4 linked regions of the Homo sapiens genome follow. The protein of the gene in region 3 interacts with the protein of the main gene of each other region in a biochemical or structural test. Each region holds a gene or a part of one and is shown on either strand. Other genes may lie near its edges. The genes, in order: AMFR, SGTA, BAG6 and USP13.

Region 1 (7,000 bases), on a different chromosome or scaffold from region 3:
CTGATTCATTACAAATGATTAAATTTAGTTCTATTCTGTCTGCCTAATGGGCCAAGGAAGTATGTAATACATTTTTAAAGGATTGAAACGAAAATAGTTCTGCTAAAGAAATAAACTGTTTTGGTACTTAAATCCTTCAAACAACCAGGAACAAACGCCCAAACTAGTTGCCCCAAATATCCTAATCTGTGTAACAGACCTATTCAAAATGGTCCAGATCACCAGGAGCATGGTGGCTCACACTTGTAATCCTGGCACTTTGGGAGACCAAGGTGGGAGGACTGCTTGAGGCCAGGAATTTGAGACCAGCCTGGGCAACACAGCAAAACCTTGCCCCTACTGAAAAATATATAAAATTTTTTAAAAAGAAAAAACAATTCAGGTAACTTGAAATGTTCATTTTTAAGGTGATGAAATAGATGCTAAAAAGACTCACCTTCATTGTGATCTAACCAATCTCAGCCACATTAACTAAGAGAAATGTCATAAGACAAAACCACAACCCCTCATGTCACATCCCCCAGCCAAACATGCCCCAGCTTTATTACGACGCAATTTCTTAAAATAATTCTTCCCGTTTTTACATGTAGTCAGTCATATGAATTTAAAAAATAAATGCAACACATTTAGCACTTGTTCGAGGCATGTGGGAAATCAGAAAAATGAGGGAGCTCTGAACCCTAAACTCAAAGAGCTTTTAGAATCTACAAGAGATAGAGCATGGTAAGCAATTTAACAGAAGGCCAAGCAGGCTACTACGAGAGTAATGATGGAGAAAAAAAACAAATTTAGGGTCACTTAAACATTTCTCTATTCAAAACAGTACTGTCACACACATCTTAAGTTATCAAATAAAAAATAAAGTATTATTTACTATTTCTCAAACTCTTTAAATAAAAGTCTATTTATTTATTTTTTTTCTGACAGTCTCACTCTGTTGCCCAAACTAAAGCACAATGGTGCAATCTCCGCTCACTGCAACCTCGGCCTTCCAGGTTCAAGCTATTCTCCTGTATCAGCCTCCCAAGTAGCTGGGATTACAGGTGTGAGCTACCACACTAATTTTTGAATTTTTTTATAGAGACATGGTTTCACCATGCTGCCCAGGCTGGTCTCGAACTCCTGGGCTCAAGTGATCCGTCTGCCTCGGCCTCCCAAAGTACTGGGATTACAGGCATGAGCCACTGCGCCCAGCCTAAATAAGTCTTTGAATTCAAATAAGGTATAAAAAATGTGTATCTTTAATTTATCCAAAAAAAGGTAAAAGTCTCTTATAATCCCATCACCCATAGAACAACCACTTCCTATTTTAATTTAAATGAAGATTTGAAAATTAACATGGCTAACCAGGAAAAAAAAAAAAAAAGTCTGAGTATACTGATACTAAAAAGGGAATTTATGTAAAAAGTAGATAAGCTGTTGTGAACTTTGTAACCAAAGCTACAAAGGATTGAAAGCAATCCTTATTTTAAGATTATAAGCAAAGTTTTTTAAAACACCTTAATGATTATTAATAACTATTCCATGTCTATTTATAGAAAAATACCTTAATTATAATGATTATATGTTAATTACAAATACTGACCTGGCACAGTATCTCGCACCTATAATCCCAGCACTTTCGGAGGCCAAGGTGGGGGGATTGCTTGAACTCAGGAGTTCAAGACCAGCCTGGCCAACATAGTGAAACCCCATCTCCACAAAAGATACAAAAATTAGCCGGGTGGGGTGGTGTGCACCTGTAGTCCCAGCTACTGAGGAGGCTGAGGTGGGAGGATCTCTTGAGCCCAGGAGGTCAAGGCTGCAGGGAACCGTGATTGCACCACTGTACTGCTCCAGCCTGAGCAACATAGTGAGGCCTTGTCTCAAATAAATAAATAAATAATATTGTGTCATACATATAACTTCTCAACTTCAGTTAACAAAGGCTTGAAAAATTGTAAATACAATTGAGCAACCCTGATGCAAAAATCCAAAATCTGAAATGCTCCAAAATCCAAAACTTTCTGAGCACCAACATGGCGTCACAAGTGGAAAATTCCACACCTGACCTCATGTGACGAGTCGCAGTCAAAATGCAGACTTACAACAGTTTACTCAGTGTCCCTAAGGGAAAAATGAAACTACCTTCAGGGTATGTGTATGAATGAGATGTATATGAAACAGAGGAATTTCATGTTTACATTTGGGTCCCATCCCCAAAATATTTCATTATGTATATGCAAATATTCCAAAATCCAGGAAAAAAATCCCAAATCCAAAACTTCGGGTCCCAAGCATTTTGGATAAAGTATTCTCAACCTATACTGAAAGAAACATAACTGGAGCATTCCTCATTTAAAAGCACTGGCTCATGTCTATAATCCCAGTACTTTGGAAGGCCAAGGTGGGTGAGTTGCTTGAGTCCAGGGGTTCGAGACCAGACTGAGCAACATGGCAAAACCCCATCTCTACTAAAAACACAACAAATGTAGCCAGGCATGGTGGTGTGTGCCTGTAGTCCCAGCTACTTGGGAGGCTAAGGTGGGAGAATCACCCTAGACACAGGGAGGTTGAGGCTGCAATAAGCCCAAATAGCATCACTGTACTCTAGCCTGGGCAATCGGAGTGAGACTCTGATTCAAAAAAAAAAAAAAAAACTGCTTAAAAAAAGTAAACTAAAATAAAATAAATCCCTGAATCAGGCACAGTGGAACATGCCTGTAATCCCAGCACTTTGGGAGGCTGACGAGGGAGAATCACGACGTCAGGAGTTCAAGACCAGCCTGACCAACATGGTGCAACCCCATCTCTACTAAAAATACAAAAATTAGCCAGGGGTGGTAGTGCTCTCCTGTAATCCCAGCTAGTCAGGAGGCTGAAGCAGGAGAATCGCTTGAACCCGGGAGGCGTAGGTTGCAGTGAGCCGAGATCATGCCACTGCACTCCAGCCTAGGTGACAGAGTGAGACTCCATCTCAAAAAAAAACAAAAAACAAAAAAACGCCAGGCGCACTGGCTCACACCTGTAATCCCAGCACTTTGGGAGGCCGAGGCGGGCGGATCACGAGGTCAGGAGATCGAGACCATCCTGGTTAACTCAGTCAAACTCCATCTCTACTAAAAATACAAAAAATTATCCGGGCACATGGTGGGCGCCTGTAGTCCCAGCTATTCAGGAGGCTGAGGCAGGAGAATGGAGTGAACCTGGGAGGCGGAGCTTGCAGTGAACCGAGATCGCGCCACTGCACTCCAGCCTGGGCAACAGAGCGAGACTCCGTCTCAAAAAAAAAAAGGAAATATGTGCACACACGTTTGTATAATATGTAGGTGTGAACTGTCAAGGACTTGATCAATTTGGGTATTTCTTAGTCTCCTACTTAACAACAGTACTTATTACAAGAATTTGATAATTGCCATTTCTGGAAGAGAGAAGCAGGTAACAGGGAGAGAGAGAGATCTACTTTTCACTGCATGTCACTTCTGTATCCCTTAACTTTTTTTTTTTTTTTTAATTTTAGACAGAGTCTCACTCTGTCGCCCGGGCTGGACTGCAGCGGCGCATTCTTGGCTCACTGCAACTTCCACCTCCCAGGTTCAAGCGATTCTCCTGCCTCAGCTTCCCAAGTAGCTGAGATTACAGGCACCTGCCACCATGCCTGGCTAATTTTTGTATTTTTAGTAGAGACGGGTTTCACCATGTTGGTCAGGCTGGTCTCAATCTCCTGACCTCAGGTGATCCTCCCACCTCGGCCTCCCAAAGTGCTGAGATTACAGGTGTGAGCCACCATGCCAGGCCTGTACCCCTTAACTTTTGTACCCTGAGCATGCATTATCTATTTTTTAAAATTTTTTTAAAGTTTAGAATCTACTAAACTAACCTGACTAGTTCTGCAATTCCACATTATTTTTCTCACCATATGATGACAAACTGATGAGTAACAAACCAAAACAAGTTCTCCTGTTACAGCACAGTATTTCAACTATGGCCAGGCGTGGTGGCTCATGCCTGTAATCTCAGCACTTTGGGAGGCCAAGGTTAGTGGATCACCTGAGGTCAGCAGTTCAAGACCAGCCTGGCCAACATGGTGAAATCCCGTGTCTACTAAAAATACAAAAAATTAGCTGGGCATGGTGGTGCACACCTGTAATCTCAGCTACTTGGGTGGCTGAGGCAGGAGAATTGCTTGAACCCAGGAGGCGGAGATTGCAGTGAGCCGAGATTGTGCCATTGCACTCCAGCCTGGGCGACAGAGAAAGACTCTGACTCAAAAAAAAAAAAATTCAACTATATTAAAACACTTCAGAATGTTTCTCATAGCTATAGTGCTGTCAAAGCTTCAAGTCATTTTTTAAAAACTCACCAAATGCCTTTTTTTTCCAGTCTACACAAAATAAAAACAAGTTTTACTTGTCCCCGTTCAGAGTGTAGCAGGTCAGGCAGCAGTGATCCCAGCAACCCTGACTTACTCAAGGCTCAAAGTTAATTCCCTTCACTCCAAGGCCCAGCAGGAAAATGTCCCTTCCAGAATGGTTCTACTCTTCTACTGGAGAAAACAGAAACTAAATTATAAAATAGTTAGGCCTGCCTGGGAGAAAAAGAGAGGAAGGTGCATTTATCACCATGTAACCCTACAGGTGTTTTTGACCCTGTAAAATGTTGGCCACCAACAGGTGCTTATTTATGACCTTGCAAAGACATGGGATTAAACTACTAGGAACCTATTCCAAGACATGGTCAATCTGGATATTTCTTAGACTCCTGCCTACACCAGCACCACTCCCCTGCGCCCCCTACCATTTGGTGGTTTCCTCCCTTTAAGGACAATTCACGTATTGTTACCTCTCTGCAGGCTCCCAGAAACAAACACATAATACAAACATGCACACACTCCCCTTCATCACATAGATGATAACTGTGTTCCTTCTTTAACAAGACTAGGGAAATAGACGAGAGTCCGCACGCAAAGCATACCTAGGAGGTGATCAAATAGCAGTCCCCTTCTCCCTCACCTGGAAGACATTCCTTTTATTTTTAATTTATCTAGGCTCACATCCAATTATTCACAAGTTTAGTCTTTTTTCCTTCAGCTGCCCCAACATTTCTGGAGCTAACATTTTTCCCTCATATACCTTGAAATAGTCAACTCATAAAGACTAAAACCTAGGAAGTCACTTTCAGCTCTTAATTTTGTTTTGTTTTTTTTTTTTGAGACCAGAGTCTCACTCTGGCCCAAACTGCAGTGCAGTGGCACAATCATAGCTCACTGTAACCTTGAGCTTCTGGGTTCAAGCAATCCTCCTGCCTCAGCCTCCCAAGCAGCTAGGACTACAGCACAGGCCACTACACTTAATTTGCATAATTAAGTCAGAACCTTGACAGTAGTTTCATATTTCTATTTCTCCATTTACATGTCTTGCTCTTAGAATTTTAGAAGCAGGTATTTTATATCTTTAAAGGGTTGTAAAACAAATTAAATAAGGAAGTTGCAGAGCCTAAAATATTCACCATCTGAGAGCACTTTAGAGAAAAATTGGCTGACTCTTATTTTAAAAAGCCTATTTTCACATAATTATAATGGTGACTAATTTTTTTTTTTTTTTTGGTAGAGCAGGGGGTCTCACTATGTTGCCCAGACTCCTGGGCAGCTCCTGGCCTCAAGCAATCCTCCACCTCCTGCCTCAGCCTCCGCCTCTCAAACTGCTGAGACTGCCGGTGTGAACCACTGAACCCAGCCCTTAAGTTTTATAATAATACGAAAATCGGCTCTTTAAAATAGGATTCAGCCAATTTTTCTCTAAAGTGCTCTCAGATAGTGAATATTTTAGGCTCTGCAACTTCCTTAATTTATTTAATTTGTTTTACAACCCTTTAAAAATATAAAAACCATTCTTAGCTGTTAAGACAAAAACAGGCCTAGTCAAATAGGTCACGAGTTTGCCAATCCCTGTTCTAAATGGTCAATTCACTTTTATCCACTTTTGTTTGTGGTCATTTTTCCCCTTGAGAGTTCTATTTAAATGATATTATTTGCATAATTAAGTCAGAACCTTGACATTAGTTTCATATTTCTATTTCTCCATTCACGTATCTTGCTCTTAGAATTTTAGAAGCAGATATTTAAGAAAGCAGAAAAGGGAACTAATAAAAGTAATGAGTAAGAATTAAAAAATGAAAAAGCCAAAACACCTGAACAATCCAAAACCATGCTAGAATGGACCAAGAGGTAGCTGAATGGAAGCATTATCTGAGCAATGTAAAATAGCCCAGAAATGAGTAACAAAATAAAAACTCATCTGAAATGAAACTTTAGGATGGAAGTTTTAGAAAGACAAGGAGAAACAAATTCTCAGGTCAAACCCACATATTTGTTAGTGTAAAAACCCTGAAGTCTCCTCCCAAATCCTTTCTCAATGTCATGCCTGAGGGCCACCTGGAGAGGCCCCCTTGGGAGGAGGAAGTTTTAGGTCACTAGATCTCCCGTCCTCTTCCCACTCTACATAAATCTATCTTCCACACTGCTCCCAATCTTCTAAAAGAAATCATGCCAGCACCCCCACTCCTCCATGCCCCACCCCCACTTAAGCCCCATCAATGGCTTCTCTCACTCCACAAAATACTGTCCACACTTGGTAGAGCAAGCAAGGTCAAGGTTACATGACATCACACTCTAGCCTCTTCCTAGGTCAGTTTTTCAACCACTAGTGTTCCTCAAATCACCTAGGGCATTCATTAAAATGAAGATTCCAAGGCTCCACCCTTCTCTCTGAAATGGATCCCCAGGGAAACTACATTTTACAAGTACCCCAGATGACCACATACCAGGATGCCAGAGGTCCACATTTTGAGAAAGAAACCTTCAAGGGGGTTGCTCACCTCCTCCTCTCACAGCAGAGCCACCTGCCCCACCTCCTTCACCTCCTCCCCACCTCCTTCACCCCCGGTCTCCTCTTCACCTTCTCAACCTCCCTCTTAAATCAGAAGATTCAACAGACTTTTAATTTAACAGCCCAGCTTCCGG
Region 2 (7,044 bases), on a different chromosome or scaffold from region 3:
GGTTGTCACTTACAGCTGCTGAATCTGGGGATTGTTCATTAGGTTCGAAGCCTGAAGAACAGAACAAATTTGTCAGGAAGACAAAGCTCCCAGCGCATCATTCTCTTTCATCAGACACTTTCCATCTTAACCAGCCTTGGTTCTGGACTCCAGCACGCCAACCAACAGTAAGAGCCGGGCATTCGGTCTTTCATACCCTTTTCCCTACATTTTCGCCCCCCCACCCACGAGCTGTGACCTCCACATTGTGACTTAAATCCTGTTTTGGGTTCCTGCTTCAGGAGCGATCTCGCAGCGCCACAGCGCTCTCTCACTGGCTGCTGCGGTTTTGCTGTGTGGAGGCGTTTTGGTTCTTTATTTTAGCTGCTGTCTGCTTTAGCATATTTCATTTAGCATATTTGGTTCCAGTTTTGCTCTATCAATAAATAGCACTGTGGCTGGGCGCGGTGGTTCACGCCTGGAATCCCAGCACTTTAGGAGGCCGAGGCAGGCAGATCGCTTGAGGTCAGGAGTTCGAGACCAGCCTAACCAACATGGTGAAACCCCGTCTCTACTAAAAATATGAAATTAGCCAGGTGTGGTGGTGCATGCCTGTAGTCCCAGCTACTTGGGAAACTGAGGCACAAGAATCGCCTGAACCTGGGAGGGGGAGGTTGCAGTGAGCCGAGATCACACCGCTGCACTCCAGCCTGGGTGACAGAGTGAGACTCTGTCTCAAAAAAGAAGTAAAAATAAATAAATAAATAAATAGCACTATACTGGGCACTTTCTCATGTTAACTTTCCACTTGGGATTATTCCTTTGGACCTGTTGAAAGGAGGTGGCTCAGAGGTGTGGCAAACTCTCTGTGTAAAGGGCCAGTGTGTAAATACTCTCAGCCTTTTCAGACACGGGTGCCTGACGCAACTACTCAGCTCTGCCGCCGTATCATGAAAGCCACCAGTGACACTAGGTGTATGAATGGGCATGGCTGTGTGCCAATAAAACTTTATTGGTCAGGTGTAGTGGCTCACACCTGTAATCCCAGCACTTTGGGGGGCCGAGGCGGGTGGATCACAAGGTCAGGAGTTCGAGACCAGCCTGGCAAACATGGTGAAACCCCATTTCTATTAAAAAATACCAAAATTAGCCAGGCATGGTGGTGGGCACCTGTAATCCCAGCTACTCGGGAGGCTGACGCAGGAGAATCGCTTGAACCTGGGAGGCGGAGGTTGCAGTGAGCTGAGATCACACCACTGCACTCCAACCTGGGCGACAGAGCGAGACTCCATCTCAAAAAAAAAAAAAAAAAAAAAAACCAAAAAAAACTTTATTAACAAAACCCAGCGGCGGGCCTTATTCTGCCAACCCCAGATGTCTGAAGGGAAAAGGCGTCTGTGACATGGCCAAGCTGAGAGGCCCCTTGAAAGACTGGGGCCCAGTCACCCTCCATCCCATGGTGAGGGAGAACATATTCCCCTGGCAGCTTGGCCAGCGGACGAGGGCTACAGTAAGAGGTGTGGCCTCTGCTGAATGGCACGACCCGGGCAGGGCTCCTGGCCCAGCTGGCTCATTTTTCTGACTGACAGTGAGACTGAGGGCTTTTCTCCCCGACAGCCTTAGGCGAGTCCCTGTACCCTGAGGCTGTGGGAGCCTGAAGAGTGGTCCCAGGGCACACAGACCTCCCAGGAAATGAACATGTGTGTGTGGGGGATGGCTCTCCGAGGATCCCAGTCAAGGAACTCCCTGCCAAAGGCCGTCCCTTTGGAAGCATGAGTGCCCGGGCATCGGGAGGTCCACCTGCGCCCGGCGCACCCGGCGCTCTGCTTCCCTTGCCTGAACCTTAGGAGGCAGACGCTGCTGTGTTGTGATCAGTGTCTCTGCACTGCGAGGAGGAGCCCACGCCAGGGTGGGGTGGGGGTGTGACCTCCCTGGGCTCAGCCAGGAGAGCCAGCTTTTGGTGCTCACTACTGATGGGTCTTGCTTGGGACATCAACATTGGGGACACTTTTGATTGTCGAAGCAGAGGGTGGGGGTGCTCCTGACATGGGGCGGGTGAGGCCAGGGGTGCTGCCAGCGCCCTGCGGTGCCCAGGACGACCCCACAGACAAGACCCATCTGGTTCCAGAAGCCAGCAGTGCCAAGGCAAGGAAGCCCTGGCCAGTAGCGGACACAGCAGATGCGGGCCTGGGGGGTGGCGCAGACACCATGGACAGGGAGGAGGGGCGGGCCGTTACCATGCTCATGAAGCCAGGGTTGTTCAGCAGGCCGGCGATGTCGAAGCTGCCCACGCCTCCCGTCTGAGGATGAGAACAGCCCTGGTTAGTGGGGCCTGGACCAGAGGCCACGGTGAATAACCCCCTGGAACTCAGAAACAACGGCCCCCCACGGGGCTCAGACATTCTATCAACCCTGCGGCCAGAGGGTGCTTTGAGGCAGGCAGCACGAAGCACATCGCAACCGCCCGGGGACGGCACAGTCTGTCATCCCGTGTTTATTCCCCGCACAGCGCGACCGCCCGGGGACGGCACAGTCTATCATCCCGTGTTTATTCCCCGCACAGCGCGACCGCCCGGGGACGGCACAGTCTATCATCCCGTGTTTATTCCCCGCACAGCGCGACCGCCCGGGGACGGCACAGTCTATCATCCCGTGTTTATTCCCCGTACAGCGCGACCGCCCGGGGACGGCACAGTCTATCATCCCGTGTTGATTTCCTGTATTCTGCCGCTTTGACACCTTGGGGCCTTGCTGGCCTGGCAGAGCCGCCCCCTCCTGGAGTAGCCAATTCCCAGAGAAAGCAAATGACTCACCCAGAAACGCACCTTTGAAATACAAACAAACTAACCCAGAACCCACACCCTCAGCACCTCCCCCATCACCCCAGGGCCACAGTCCACCTGCCCCACTCACCCCCAGGCCAGGGACCAGGCAACCAGGGGCAGCCCCCAGGCCTGGGTCTAATGAAATGGCTCCAACCAGCCAACCCGAAGCCTCCTCACCCGGCCTCGCCACAAAACCCACATCGAGGGTCCTTTCTGTGCCCCTCCCTCAGCCTCCGCGGGCAGCCCTGCGGCCGGCCTCCTGCTTCCAGGGGTCTGGGGGCATGAACCTTCTCACGACACTCACTTCCACGCCTGTGCATCTCACCACCAACTGAAACAAACCCCGGACCCTCACGACACCCAGGTTAAGCCTAGAGCCACTGGTGCGCCCGAGGACCTGTCCCCCACCCACACAGTCAGCTCGGCGTTCTGGAGCCACTCGCCCCCGCTGCACTCACGGGGCTGGGGGCCTCCCGCAGCTTCAGCTCCGCTATCTTGAGGTTGGACTTGTATGTCTCGTTGTCGGGGTCCAGCTCCAGAGCCTTCTTGTAGTAAGCCACGGCCTCCACGTGCTTGTTGAGGCTGGAGAGCGCCAGGCTGGAGGAGAGCACCGGGGATGGACTGTTCCCATCTGCCCAGCTCCAGGAGGCCCCGCCAAAGCCCTCGTCCCCGGCGGTCCTGGCAACCCCCAAACCACCTCGGATGGTGCCACCCCCTGCCCGCTGTCAGCTCAGTGGAGACAAACCTGGCTTTCGAGGGGCCCAGGGGCAGGACTGAGGGAGACAGACATGAGAACACCCCTGCCACACAAGAACTGGAGTCCCCATGGGGCCACACACAGGGCCTCAAAGCCCAGAGCGGGCTGAGAGGAGGGAGCGGGCCAGCTCAGGGTCACAGGAAATGCGTGGATGTTGTCTTGGCCCCGCTTCCCGGCACAGGGCACCAAGGACCCTCGGAACCTCTGAGCGACAGACATGTCTCCCGTCATCCACAAGCAGCCCCTGACCCCCACCTGAGTGAGTCTTCACTCGTGAGGTGACTCAGGGCCCCTACAGAGCCCAGGAGGAGGCGGGTCCTGGGGAGACTGGGCAGTTGAACAGGGCCCCTCCCCAGCCTCTGGGGAGACCCAATCCCACAAACTCTGAGCAAGGGCATTCAGAGAAGCAGGCGAATGCACGCTTATGCTGGGAGGGCGGCACCGGCTGCACGGGGCGCAGGCTCCTGCCCCGGGGACCCTCCTGGCCTCACTCTCGGACCTGTCCTGTGTCCTTCATCATAAACCAGGTGCTTCCCTGAGCTCTGTGAGCCGCCCCAGCAAACAATGGAGCCTGAGTAGGAGCCATGGGAACCCCAGGTGACAGCCAGTCAGGGAGAAGCAAGGGGCCCAGGGATCTCCGGGTGGCACCTGATGCGGGGCGTCTGTGGGGCTGAGCCTGTGACCTGTAGGGACTACGTTGGCTCCGAACAGCTAGTGTCAGAGTTGAACTGAACCGGGGTGGGAGAATTCGTTGTGGGTGGGAAAAAAGCCACACAAGAGAGGAAGCAGGAGCAGGAGAGGAGGGGTCCCGAGAGACTGGAAAGGCGCGGCCGTGGACAGGCACTCACCCCATCCTGCCGTAGGCCTTGCTGTAGGCCGGGTCAATGCAGATGGCCCGCTCACAGTCCTGCACCGCGCCTGCGTAGTTGCCGAGTTTGCTGTAGGCTGCGGCTCTGGGGAAGAAAAGGCAGGGCAGGTCCCTCACTGGCGGCTCTGAGCCCAGCGGGCAGCCCTTGAGGGGAGCCTGAGAGCTGCGTTCCTCTCCAACTTCCTGGAGGAACGGCCTCAGTTTTCCCCATCTGTAAAATGGGGCTGATGGGGAAAGCTGAGAGGTGTGGCCACTGAGATGCTCTTAGACAAATGTGGGCTCAAAGCACCAGCAGCCACTCAGGACTGCGACTCTGAATTTTATTTGCAAAAAATGTTCCGATCCATGGCTGTACAAGAGCAATGAGGGTAGGGAACTTATACCCAAGTTTCATTCACAAATTATTTACATATCAGTAAAAAAAGAACTCAGACCAATGTCAAAGCTCAAAGCTCTTGGCTTACAGCGTCTGAATCGTCTTCACCATTTTCGTGTTTAGTGTTTCTCTTTACAATTTTTTCAAAGTACAGAGAAGAGTGAGTGGAGACTAAACTACCCCATGACAGGCGGCCAGGAACCCTGCACTGCCTCTGCAACTGTCCTGTAAGCCTGAAGCAGATCCAAGACCACACATTCAAAAAACACAACCCTCCACATACTGGATTATTTTCTTGGCTTGACATCCACGTGGAATGCCATGATACCTGATTTTCTATGTATGTATTTATGTATTTATTATTTTTGAAACAGGGTTTTGCTCTGCTGCCCAGGCTGGAGTGCAGTGACACGATCTCAGCTCACTGCAACCTCTGCCTCCCGGGTTCAAGTGATTTTCCTGCCTCAGCCTCCCAGGTAGCTGGGACTACAGGCACCCACCACCACATCCAGCTAATTTTTGTGGTTTTTTTCGGGGTTTTTTTGAGACAGAGTCTCCCTGTCACCCAAGATGGAGGGCAGTGGCGCAATCTTGGCTCACTGCAACCTCTGCCTCCCAGGTTCAAACCATCCTCATACCTCAGCCTCTTGAGTAACTGGTGGTGCCCACCACTACACCCGGCTAATTTTGTATTTTTAGTAAAGACGGGGTTTCACCATGTTAGCCAGGCTGGTCTTGAACTCTCAACCTCAAGTGATCCCCCCCGCCTCAGCCTCCCAAAGTGCTGGAATTACAGACGTGAGCCACCGCGCCTGGCCCCCAGACTAATTTTTACATTTTCTGTAGAGACGGGGGTCTTGATATGTTGCCCAGGCTAGTCCCGAACTCCTAGCCTCAAGTGATCTTTCCCCCATGGCCTCCCAGAGTGCTGGGCGTGCTACCTGATTTTAAATCAGCATCGACTCTCCCCGACCCCGTTGCTGGTCACCTGATGCTCGCTCCTGGTCTGAGACCACCGGTGAATGGATCCCTCATCTACAGCGCAGAGGCCTCTCCCATCTCAGGTCCCTGCTAAGCATCCCGGAGGACGCCCCCGCACCCGGCCGCCCCTGCCCTGGGCAGGCCCTGAGCTGGTACCTGTTGCAGAAATAGACGGCGTTGGCTGGGTTGAGCTCGATGGCTTTTCCGTAGAAATGCACGGCAGCTTCAAAGTTTTCCACTTTCATCTGCTCGTTTCCTACAGGGAGAGAGGAAAACACCGGCCCGGTGTCCACACAGACCGGAGGGGGTGTCAGGGAGAGAGGAAAACACCGGCCTGGTGTCCACACAGACCCGAGGGGGCGTCACACTTGGCTCTTCTGGGCAGCCAGGACTCAACACAGATGCCGGCTCAGGAGGCATCTGCATCTATAGGGGGTTCGCTAGTCGCAAACAATCATATCTACATCCACTAAGGGGGATGGAGGTGGGGGCGGCAGGGCCTGGCCTGGCCTGTGCCTGGCGACGGTGGCTGTCACTGCCTGGATGGCGACCCCGGGAGCAGAACAGTTAATACAGCTCACCGGCCCGGGGACGGAAACTGTCCCTTTCGCTATTGCTTTTGGAAAGAGCCCAAGTGGAGGCCTGTATTTTGGAATACTCATGTGATACCTTCTCATTTCATAGGCAATGGGGCTTCTATCTGAGGCATGGGTCCCAGCTGGTAGGACGGTAAAAACCCCAGCTGCTATCCTAGAACTGAGAGCCCTGAAGACAGAAACCCACTCCCGCCCCCGAGATCCCAATTCAGGAGGGCGTGGGGGGAAGATGGGTATCAGCGTGTGTTTCCCTAAACAGTTTTATTGAGATATAATTTACATGCCACAAAGCTTACGCTTTAAAAATATAAGCCCGGGCGCGGTGGCTCATGCTTATAATCCCAGCACTTTGGGAGGCCGACGCAGGCGGATCGCAAGATCAGGAGACCAAGACCATCCTGGCCAACACAGTGAAACCTGTCTCTACTAGAAATACAAAAATTAGCCGGGCGTGGTGGTAGGCTTCTGTAGTCCCAGCTACTCAGAAGGCTGAGGCAGGAGAATTGCTTGAACCAGGGAGTCAGAGGTTGCAGTGAGCCGAGATCACGCCACTGCACTCCAGCCTGGGCGACAGAGCGAGACTCCATCTCAAAAAAGAAAAAAAAGAAATGGGATCACATGCTGTGCGTCCTTTTGTGTCTGGCCTCTCTCCCTGAGTGTGA
Region 3 (4,178 bases):
GTAATTTGAGAGCTCTATGCTAGTGTGCACCTGGAATATGCTCCCAACTCAAAATACAGGTTTTTTATTTATATATAAAGTGCTTTCGCACAAAAAATACAAACATCAGGCTGGGCGCGGTGGCCCACGCCTGTAATTCCAGCACTTTGGGAGGCCAAGGCGGGTGGATCACAAGGTCAGGAGTTCGAGACCAGCCTGGCCAATATGGTGAAACCCTGTCTCTACTAAAAATACAAAAATTAGCCGGGCGTCGTGGCGGACGCCTGTAGTCCCAGCTACTCAGGAGGCTGAGGCATGAGTGAGAATCACTTGAACCCGGGAGGTGGAGGTTGTAGTGAGCCGAGCTCGAGATCGGGCCACTGCACTCCAGCCTGGGAGACAGCAATACTCTGTCTCAAAAAAAAAAAAAAACAAACATCAAAACTGGCTTGTACAATTTAGCGTGCTGAGTAGAACACAACAGTGTTCCAAGGAAGTATTAATTTAAAAAAGTTCACACAAGATTAAGGGACACACTACCTAATGGAGACAATGTAGAGAGAAAGCAGCCAGAAAAATCCGACTTTTATTTCTTAAATACTGTGAAGGAAGAGGGGGGAAACGGTCCCCTGATGAGGAAGGGCCATAGAGCAAAGAGCTAAGGATCATCAGCAAAGGCCCGCTGGGCATTGGGGAAGCGCTGGGGACTGTAGTTGGGGTCTTCCTGCAGTCGTTTTTGTATATCAGACCGGAGCTAAAGAGAAAAAGTAAGCAGGTTGGAGAAACGCTGGCCAAGTCCCCATGATCCCAGCAAGCACACAAGGCCATCCCTCAGAAGCTAACATTTCCCCCCCCAAGCACACTGTCAAATAGCCCGGGGTGGCACTGTCAAGCCTTCCCAGATGCCAAAGGGGAAAACAAATGGTAGCACCAGGCTGACCAGTTCATCGCTGAAGGGATCCAGGGAAGAGGGACCCTAGCCCAACCCCTCCCACTAGACCATCCCTATTCTGCTTCAAGGTGGCACCTGCTGCCTGTAGCTCTCCTGAACCTCTGGTGCCTCCAGGTCCCGGCTCAGGCTCTCGGGGCTCGTCAGGGGCCGAGCTCCGGCTGCCTTAGCTGCCCGGCTCACAGCCTCTGAGAGAAGCAGCTGGGGGCCCTCACCCTGCATCGTCTGGGGGACAGGGGGTTGGGAGGGAAAAGAGGATCAACGTCAGATCCAGTGCCACCATCCGGCTCACCCTTTCCATGAGTCAACCACTCCACTGAGTCTCCATGCTAGTGGAGAGAGGGGAAATTAAGAGTCCAGGATGTGGTTTTTACAGCAGAAATGCCTTCCTAATTCTCTTTGGCACTAGCCAAAACTAAAGTGAATGTGCTTGAACGTGCTCTTCAAAACGAAAGGCAGAAGGGGTCAAGCCATCCGGGATTCAGAGCTAGGTAATCCACAAGAGGAAACCCACCTTAAAGGAAAATGGGATCTAAGCACATGGGGATTAGGCAGCTGAGCAACTAATACAGGACTGCTAGCAAACAGACTAAGGTCAAGTCCTGTATGGTTATGCAACAACCAAGAGCAAGTCTGAATCCCAGAAAAAGTTTCCTCATTAAACGAGGGGAGGGGAGACTGAATAACAAGAGCTCCCACCATCTCTACATAGTTTGATTCCAGGCATGACGGGGAAACCTGGATAGAGAGAGAGGCTTAGGGAAGAGGAAAACCAACCTTGCGTCTCTTGGCAGGCATACCACTGAGGTAGGCATCACTCAGAGGGGGCTGCGGTTTCACCTTCCGCTGGCTCTGAATGTCCTGCTGGATAATAGGGACCCATTCCTGGGGAGGAAAAGAGAAAATAGTAATGTCCTTGACTTTCAGCTGCCATGACCCACTGGATTACTTCCTGACACTTACTGGGGGGACTGCAGCTGCCCAAGGTTCTGTCTCAGCTGAAGCTCCATCCTGTTCATCCCGGGAGCCCCCCTCAGGAGCAGGAGGTGGACCTCGGGACATGGCCTCTTCTGCTGTTGTTCCAGGGGCTGGGGAAGCATTCTCCCGCTGGGTGTCAGATGGCGGGAAGAGCCAGGCTTCAGAATTTTTAGCCTCCAAACCTTTCTCCCCCAGCCCTCCACTCCACATTATCTGGCCCCTCAACCTCCCCCTCTCTAGAGTACCTGAGGCTCAGGGGAAGCTCTTTCTGCTCCCTGAACTTCCATTGGCTCCTCAGGAAGTGGCTGTGAAATTAAAGAACACCATACTTCCTCTCAGATCTCTCCAGTTCTCTCAAGTACCCTGACCCCATCGCCCAACAGGTCCCTTACCTGGGGGGGATCACCAACCCTGCGAACGTATCTGAGAATGGCATCAGGGCCTACAGGCATGTGCTCCAGTACCACCTGAAGCCTCAGTCCCATCATAGTGGTCAGCCAGCTCACCAAGGAGGGATTCACCCCACGAGACATACGACGCTGAGGGACAGAAAGCAGATTTAGAACACAAAACCCTCAACCACCTTTAGAAATAGATTAGATCCAGGTTACAGAATGTCAGTTTAGAAAAGAAAAATGAAAACTGCAGAGAATGGAAACCTCAGGAAACAAAAGGCTAAGGATCTGGGGCTAGGTGGTGCTTACAATTCGGCCATTGATAACAGCAGCAAGCTCCATCTGCTGTCCCCCCAAGCAGTGCAGGTTTAGGGCCAGGCATTCAAACAGGCCTTGGTTACACAACTCCAGCAACCGGGCCCCAAATCCACTATCTGTGGGCAAAATACAAGGAGGGAATGCTGGCACGTGGCAGCCCTGCACATGCAACAGGCCCCACTTGCCCCCGCCTGGCCAGCCCCTGACCTGTGCAATGCAGCACATGCGCAGCAATGCTATTAAACTGCTCTTGGAGAAATTCCAGGTTTGTCCGGATGATGTCCACACCTGGCTGAACCTGCACCAAGGACTGAGAGACAAGATAACACAAAGATCCCAAAATCAAGAATCATAAGACTGGGAGTGGAGGAGGCAGCTGCCTTGACCAGACCCAGGAGAGGAAAGGAATAGAGAAGGGTTACTCACAAAACTCTCCCGCACATACTCTTCTAGCCCCGTGATCAATGTGTGGGTTGCCATCTGTGGAGGAAACAGAACAGGTTTAGTTCAAAGCCTCAGTCCTCCCAAGACTTCCACCTCGACCCCAACAAGTCCAGGGCTTGTGTGGGGGCAATTGGAGCTTTACCTGGCAGAGAAGCAGTCAGAAATAAGGAATAAAATGTGCAAAAGAGGAGAGTTCTGGGGCCCCTGGCCTTCATTTACCCGGATGTTACTGGGTGTGGGCTCCTGACCACCCAGGTAGTGCTGGTGGAAGAAGGATCGCAGCTGGGGCTGGAGCCGTTGTAGTGGCTGGAAATGCCCATGGAGAAGCATCACTACGTCCACCATAGAGAAGTTCTGGCACAGAAGAGAAAGCAAGGCCCCAAAGAATCCTGGGGGACAAGGGCAGATGTTAGCAATGGCCTTTACCACCTGGCCTGCCCACCCACAACCAGATCATCAACCTCATCCCACCTTGGCAACACCCCTAAACCAAGGCCATCTACATTCCTCTGGCTGCCCCTTCCTGGAGCAAGCCAAAGCATCCTTTTTGCTCACCAAGGGCCCCATCAGCTCCAGGCTCAAAGATGTTGCTGGATCCACTGAGGCGTTGTATGAAGGCAGCAATACTTTCACTGCTGCCAGCCCGAGCCCCCAGGGAGCCCAGCAGGGAGCTGAGCACACCCTGCACCACTGAGGTAAAAAACTCCGGTGACAGGCTCTCAAGACCCAGGCCTCCAGGACTCCCTGCGCCACCAGAAGGGGAGCCTGGTGGGGGCATGGTCTGCTGCTCTGGGGCAGGTGGTGGGGGTGGAGGAGGTGGGGGTGGTGGAGGGGCTGTCTGTGTTGCCTGGCAAATAAAGAAAGAACAAAGAACAGAAAGTGAGGTGAGAATGAAGACACACGGAAATAATACGGCATCAAGAGGGCACAAACCAACGGGTCTGGGAAGATGGGGAGTTACATTCTGATCTTCACTGCTTAAAGCAGAAGTATGGTAGGTATTTAACAGAGTCAGGCAGCACAACTTACCTACCTCTTCCTCTGAACAGGCTGTCAGAAAGCAGTGACACTAATTACTATACTTTCTTTTTCTAAACCTCATTTTCTTCATCTTT
Region 4 (7,044 bases), on a different chromosome or scaffold from region 3:
CTTTAAATATTTTAGGCAAGCTAGTAATTTCTGAAAAGTAATACCAGATACTTTAAATGAGTATGGAAATTGGGAGAACGACATCTCATCCTTTCTTATCCAGTTGGCATTGAAACAGTTTCAGTGATGAAATTCCTATTTTATATTAAAAAAAAGAAGAAGACAGTTCCCTCCCACCGTCTCTTTCTATCTGTATATGAATACGTACATGTTAGGTCTGGAAAGAACATTAATGAGTAAATCTGCCACTATATGATTATAGGAACAAATGCTGCTAGTGTAGATTTAGTTAAATACAACTGTTATTTACTCAGTACTTTCTATGTGTCTAGCACCATGCTAGACACCATGAGTTTTATAAAAGCCAAATGGCCTCTGCCCTGGGCAAGCTCCTAGTCAAATGGGAGACACAAATACCTACAGAAGTAATTTTATTGCAAGATCAACTTGATACCTCCAACAACAGAAGAACTAACAAGGGAGCGTGGTGGCCCAAACCTGTAATTCCAGCTACTCGGGAGGCTGAAGCAGGAGAATCGCTTGAACCTGGGAGGTGGAGGTTGCAGTGAGCCAAGATCGTGCCACTGCACTCCAGCCTGGGTGATGGAGTGAGACTCTGTCTCAAAAAAAAAAAAAACCAAAAAAAACTAACAATGCATTACAGTGGCTACAGGCACAGGCTCTGGAGGCAGACTGCCTGCACTGGAATTGTGGTTCTATCCATCACTAGCTATGAGACCTTGACAAGCTATTACTTAGCCTTCTCTATCTCAGGTTCTTCACCTGTAAAATGGGGATAATAATGGTATGTACCTCATAAGGTTACTGTGAGGATTAAAGATGGCACAAATGGGAGTATTTTTCATACTGGTATAATTATTGCTAGCATATGAGGTAAGCATGAGCTGATTATGACAAGGATCTAGGAAGGCAGTCCAGAGAAATGGAATCTGTGGCCAAGTTCTAAATAATGATGAGAATTTTAGTGTGCAGTGATGGGAGAGAAGGCTCATTTCACAAATAGGGGTTAACCTGAGTCTGCAGGTTAAGTGAGAAGAGAGTTGTTGACAGCTGAGTAGGCTAAGAGTGTGGCTACAGTCCCAGGCATCTCAGCTGCAGGTATAGGGAGTATAGAAGTGACACTGGGAGACCAGGTGGCCTGGATCTGACTGGAGGAGGTGCTGAATGCCAAGCTAAAGAGCCTGAATGTTATTCTACAGGCAATGACAGCCCAAGAAACAGGATATCACAAAGGTTAAGAACAAGGATTCTGGGTTTGAATCTTGGCTCCATCTCTTAAGAGCTGTGTGGCCTTTGGCAAGGTACCCAAGCTCTCTATGCTTATATTTTCTCACCTGTAAAATCAGTTGTAGTGAGAATTACATGAGTGTTGATATGCAAAGTGCTTAGAACAGTGCCTGGCACATAGTGACATACATAAGTGTTTGCTATTAAAAGGCAGAACAACGGCCTATGGCGCCTCTTCCTGTCATCCTGAGACACCCCTTCAGGATATTATTAGTAGTTGGTACGGGTAACGATATGATCAAGGATGAGACCACTTTGCTACTACTCAAAAAACACTACCATGAAAACAAATGTTCTCTTTTTGACAAAAGCTCCCATGGTCCATGAAGAAATTTTACCTCAAAGGAACAGACAAAATCAAAGTTGGCCCTAAACTTGGGCACAAACATGACCAAGCAACATGATTCTGACATGACTTTATCAGATCACCGGGGCCTATGCAAAGTGGCAAACTGCACCATTTCTAAGAAGATGGGATCTGGCCAGGCATGGTGGCTCATGCCTGTAATCCCAGCACTTTGGGAGGCCGAGACAGGCATATCACGAGGTCAGGAGATCAAGACCAGCCAGGCCAACATGGTGAATCCCCGTCTCTACTAAAAATACAAAAATTAGCTGGGTGTGGTGGCACATGCCTGTAATCCCAGCTACTCGGGAGGCTGAAGCAGGAGAATGGCTTGAACCTGGGAGGCGGAGGTTGCAGTGAGCCGAGATCGCGCCACAGCACACCAGCCTGGCAACAGTGTGAGACTCTGTCTCAAAAAAGAAAAAAAAAAAAAACGAAGAAGATGGGATCTGTGCTAACTTTTGAATGATGGCAAAGGCTTGACTATGTTGTGGTGGGAGGGAAGGGCATGAGCTGAACGTATAGTTCTGACTGCTCAGACAGCCTCTAAGGCAAGAACTTACTTCCAGATCCATCCTTGACTCTAGGTCCTTCGGGCTTGGCCTCAGAAATAATGTTTGCATTGGCATTATTCTCCATCTCAATCACAAAATCACTGTCTTCTTCAAACTCAGGGTGGCTAAAGATCCAATCCAGTGCTCTTTCCAGGTTATTATTCTAACAACAAAAAAGAAACAGATGTTTTTACAATGCATGCAGCCTCAGGCCTCACTATGTCCTGACCATTTCAACTAGATGTCAGGCAGATAGGGAAGGAGGTCTGAATTAATTAGTCCTAAGTGCCACTGAGTAAGAAGCTCTGACTCCGCATGACAGGCACGTTCAGTTGGCATGGCATTCTGCAAGTCTCCCAGCTGACATCTGTAATTGGATTCACTGGAAAAGAGTTCTAAGCAGCAGATCAGCATTCCAAAGTTTATATCAATGTTAGCTCAGCTTTTCTGCAGGAAGATGCTGATAATAATAGGTGTGGAATAACCAAGGGTATGGCATTTGTTTAAGTGCAGCTCTTTCTAAAGCCACTTTAATTGCACACACTACCTTCTCTACCAACTGTATTTTCTGCAGATAACTGAACAATAGAGGGATGCCAGTGTGGTATTATGTTAGAGCCTTCTCTCCTGGAATGTTGGTAAAATGTTTGAATTCCAGTAAAGACAAGATTAATATCTTGATTAATGACAACAACACTGATTAGTTAAGTATAATTGTTTAAACTGAACTCCATGTACTTCAAACTAATTGACCATAAAAATATTTCCATCTTTCTCAGCTTGTGATATTTCTGGCAGGTTAAAGAATTTGTATAGATATAAAACCTCTAATGAAACAGTCAGGCAAATAAAATGAGTGGAGCACAAGAAAGTACCCCAAGTAAAACAAACTCTGGTTGAGATATTTTAATCATCTTAAAGGGAGACAGGTTGTCCTAGCCACATCCTCATGAGACAATCAAGAGCCACTGTGACCTCAGCAACGGATCCTAGCAGGCACCCCATCAGGATAGGCAAGAAGTAATTGAGAGCAGATATCTACTCAAAAATGGATTATGGTGTGACCAGGAAGGATGGGTTTTGTTTTGTTTTTTAAGTACCTTCCCTCAAGATTAAACAGATATCAGCACTGCAGAAGGGAATTGTCTACCCTGTAGTTTCAGAGTCCCTTGTTTCTTGGTATCAAGAAGTTCATGGCTACCAGAAGAACCTTCTCTTTCTGCAGAGAGAAACAGCAGCAGAGAATTCCAAGGAGCCATTCAGTTTTCTATGAGGACTTTTAAGAGACATTTACCCAAGGTCTTGGTATCAGAAAAGCATTCTATCTCCTAAAGGACTTCTTACTGAACATGGAATTTCATGCATCCCTCTTTCCTCTAGGGCCACAAGCAGCCTCCAAGTCAAATTTCTGACCCCCTGTTAACAAACATTCAAGATGATATCAAGTTTCTTTCAGTTTGCTCATATTACCCCAGATTTATTTATCTCATTCGCTGTGTGAAAATCATTCATTTTAGCTTTATATTTATAATATGCAAATAAATCTTTATGGGCTATGATGAGATTCACAGTTAGATGAATCAAACATGAATCAAAATGATCAAAGTACATTGGAAAGTCTCAACTGCTACAGAAATAAATTCACACACACACACACACACACACACACACACAGTCTCTCATGCTCACCGTTGCTCGTAGTGCCTGAATAGCCTGATTTCGCTGAAATCCCATGGAGGTGATGATAGCTACGATTTCCTCTGGAGGTTGGTTATCCAGTCCAGAAGCACCAAAAACAGAGGCTCCAGCAGAAGCTGCCCCTCCATAACCAGGCATGGTCAGCGGCTCAGCAAAATCTGAGAAAAATAACCACACCCAAGTCTTTTCCTTTTTTTTTTTTTTTTTTTGTCCTGAAACAACACTAACAAGGAAAAACATGATTCTACAAAGTTATAATAATCAAGACAGTCTGGGCCAGGCGCAGTGGCTCATGCCTGTAATCCCAGCACTTTGGGAGGCCAAGGCGAGTGGATCGCCTGAGGTCAGGAGTTCGTGGCCAGCCTGGCCAACATGGCAAAATCCTGTCTCTACTAAAAATACAAAAATTAGCAGGGCATGGTGGTGCACACCTGTAATCCAGCTACTTGGGAGGCTGAGGCACAAGAATCGCTTGAACCCAAGAGGCGGAGGTTGCAGTGAGCTGAGATTGCACCACTGCACTCCAGCCTGGGCAAGAGAGCAAGGCTCTGTCTCAAAAAAAAAGACAGTCTGGTACTGGTATATAGGCAGACATATGGATCGATTAAATAGAATTGAGATTCCAGAAATAAAACCATATACCTGTGGTTAACTGATTTTCAACAAGACCATTCAGTGGGGAAAGGACATTATTTTCAACAAATGATGCTGGGACAACTGGATATCCACATACAAAAGAATAAAGTCAGACCCTCACCTCACATCATACACAAAATTAACTCAAAATGGCTCATTGACCTAAATATAGGAGCTAAAACTATAATAATCTTAGAAGAAAACACAGGAGTAAGTCTTTGCCATTGGATTAGGCAATGGTTTCTTATTTACAACACAAAAAGCACAAGTGATAAAAGAAAAAAAAGATAAATTGGACATCATCAAAATTAAAAATGTTTGTGCTTCAAAGGATACCATCAAGAAAGTGAAAAAACACCAGAATGGGGGGGAAAACACAAATCATATATCTCATAGAAACTCGTATCTGGAATTTGTAAAGAACTCTTAGAACTCAATAATAAAAGGATAACTTCATTAGAAATGGGCAAAGAATTTGAATAGACATATCTCCAAATAAGATATACAGTCAATAAACATACGAAAAGTTGTTCAACATCATTAGTCATTAGGAAAATGCAAACCAAAACCACAAGATACCACTTCATACCCACTGGGATGGGTATGATAAAAAAGATAATAATAAGGGTTAGTGATGATATGGAGAAATTGGAACTCACATTCATTACTGGTGGAAATGTAAAATGGTTCAGCCACTGTGTAAAACAGTTTGGTCGTTCCTCAAAATTAAATATAGAGTTACCATATGACATGGCAATTCCACTCAAGAGAAGTAAAAATAAATGTCCATCCACACAAAAACTTGTAAAAAATGTTTATAGCAGCATTGTTCATAAAAGCCAAAAAATGTAAATAACCCAAATGTCCATGAACTGATAAAGATTAATAAAATATAGTATACCCATAAAATAGACTATTATTATTGTTATTATTATTATTATTTTAGATGGAGTCTCACTCTGTTGCCCAGGCTGGAGGGCAGTGGCGTGATCTCAGCTCACTGCAACCTCCGTCTCCTGGGCTCAAGCAATTCTCCTGCCTCAGTCTCCCAAGTAGCTGAGACTCCAGGTGCCCGCCACCATGCCCAGACAATTTTTGCATTTTTAATAGAGATGGGGTTTCACCATGTTGGCCAGGCTGGTCTTGAACTCTTGACCTCAAATGATCCTCCTGCCTTGGCCTTCCAAAGTGCTGGGATTACAGGCGTAAGCCACCAAACCCGACCCAACAGACTATTATTTTACCGTAAAAAGGAATGAAGTACTGACACATGCTACAACATAGATGAATCTTGAAAGCACTATGCTAAGTGATAGAAACCAAACACAAACGACCTTTTATTATATGACTCCATTTATATGAAATGTCCAAAACAGGCAAATCCCTTGATCCAGAAAACAGATTCGTGGTTGCCAGGGGCTGGGGTGAGCAGGAAAATGGGGAGTGACTGCTATTATGTATGAGATTTCTTTTGAAGGGTACAAAATGTTCTAAAATTTGATAGTGGTAATGGTTACACAACTGTGAATTTATGAAAAACCATTGAAATGTACACTTTAAACAGATGAATATATGCATTATAGCTTAATAAAGTAGATAAAAGAAAAAGCTAACTAAACATCCTCCATTTCTTCATGCCCATGTTTCCATTTCAAATTTTCATCATCGCTTAGTTAGAAGTATATCCCGTATCTTTCTATTGGTCTTTTTGCCACTGACTTATACACTTTAAAGGGATGAATTATATCTCAATAAAGCTGTTTGGGGTTTTTTTTGTTGTTTTTTTGTTTGTTTGTTTTTTTGAGACAGAGTCTCGCTCTGTCACTCAGGCCAGAGTGCAGTGGTGCAATCTTGGCTCACTGCAGCCTCCGCCTCCTGCGTTCAAGCGATTCTCCTGCCTCAGCCTCCTGAGTAGCTGGGACTACAGGTACGCACCACCATGCCCAGCTAATTTTTGTATCTTTAGTAGAGATGGGGTTTCACTATGTTGGCCAGGATGGTCTTCATCTCTTGACTTCGTGATCCGCCTGCCTTGGCCTCCCAAAGTGCTGGGATTACAGGCATGAGCCCCCACGCCTGGCCTAAAGCTGCTGTTTTTAAAAAAAAAAAGAAGAAGAAAAAGACTGGCTTTCTCCTCCACTGCAGGAGATTAGGAACTATAAAGTCATTTTCTAGGGATACATCCACAGGGACCTTGGAAGGACCAGGACTCAGCATCACTGAGGGTCACATCAGACTCCAAAGCCATTCCATTTTCTCGCCACCTACCTGGCTCTTCCATGTGAACAATGATCCAGTTGAAGGCCACCTCGGCGCCCATATTTCCAGTGAAGTACACAGCCTTGCGACATGCTTCCAGCGGGAAACCCATCTCGGCCAGCTGCATCACTGATGACTCATCGATGTCTGATGCTACAGAGCACAACAGGATATTCTAGTGTGAAAGAGGAAACTGTCGCTTCTTGTCTTAGCTACTCTCCACTCTCCTATCCACATGCTACC

The links.
Region 1: the proteins of BAG6 (region 3) and AMFR form a complex in vitro, tested with the Homo sapiens proteins (2 studies listed by BioGRID, with this or other methods).
Region 2: the proteins of BAG6 (region 3) and SGTA form a complex in vitro, tested with the Homo sapiens proteins (4 studies listed by BioGRID, with this or other methods).
Region 4: the proteins of BAG6 (region 3) and USP13 form a complex in vitro, tested with the Homo sapiens proteins (one study listed by BioGRID).

The regions. Positions count from the first base shown.
Region 1 is NC_000016.10:56,415,546-56,422,545, forward strand, and holds part of AMFR (E3 ubiquitin-protein ligase AMFR), read right to left. Parts: intron 1-7,000. UniProt on the Homo sapiens protein: E3 ubiquitin-protein ligase that mediates the polyubiquitination of lysine and cysteine residues on target proteins, such as CD3D, CYP3A4, CFTR, INSIG1, SOAT2/ACAT2 and APOB for proteasomal degradation.
Region 2 is NC_000019.10:2,759,244-2,766,287, forward strand, and holds part of SGTA (small glutamine-rich tetratricopeptide repeat-containing protein alpha), read right to left. Parts: intron 6,043-7,044; coding exon 5,943-6,042; intron 4,515-5,942; coding exon 4,410-4,514; intron 3,402-4,409; coding exon 3,263-3,401; intron 2,280-3,262; coding exon 2,217-2,279; intron 52-2,216; coding exon 14-51; intron 1-13. UniProt on the Homo sapiens protein: Co-chaperone that binds misfolded and hydrophobic patches-containing client proteins in the cytosol. Mediates their targeting to the endoplasmic reticulum but also regulates their sorting to the proteasome when targeting fails.
Region 3 is NC_000006.12:31,638,494-31,642,671, forward strand, and holds the end of BAG6 (large proline-rich protein BAG6), read right to left. Parts: intron 3,911-4,178; coding exon 3,619-3,910; intron 3,453-3,618; coding exon 3,283-3,452; intron 3,100-3,282; coding exon 3,046-3,099; intron 2,930-3,045; coding exon 2,827-2,929; intron 2,736-2,826; coding exon 2,611-2,735; intron 2,446-2,610; coding exon 2,299-2,445; intron 2,212-2,298; coding exon 2,152-2,211; intron 2,036-2,151; coding exon 1,892-2,035; intron 1,814-1,891; coding exon 1,706-1,813; intron 1,154-1,705; coding exon 1,007-1,153; intron 734-1,006; coding exon 638-733; 3' UTR 535-637; downstream 1-534. UniProt on the Homo sapiens protein: ATP-independent molecular chaperone preventing the aggregation of misfolded and hydrophobic patches-containing proteins.
Region 4 is NC_000003.12:179,761,022-179,768,065, reverse strand, and holds part of USP13 (ubiquitin carboxyl-terminal hydrolase 13), read right to left. Parts: intron 6,955-7,044; coding exon 6,811-6,954; intron 4,065-6,810; coding exon 3,898-4,064; intron 2,372-3,897; coding exon 2,218-2,371; intron 1-2,217. UniProt on the Homo sapiens protein: Deubiquitinase that mediates deubiquitination of target proteins such as BECN1, MITF, SKP2 and USP10 and is involved in various processes such as autophagy, endoplasmic reticulum-associated degradation (ERAD), cell cycle progression or DNA damage response.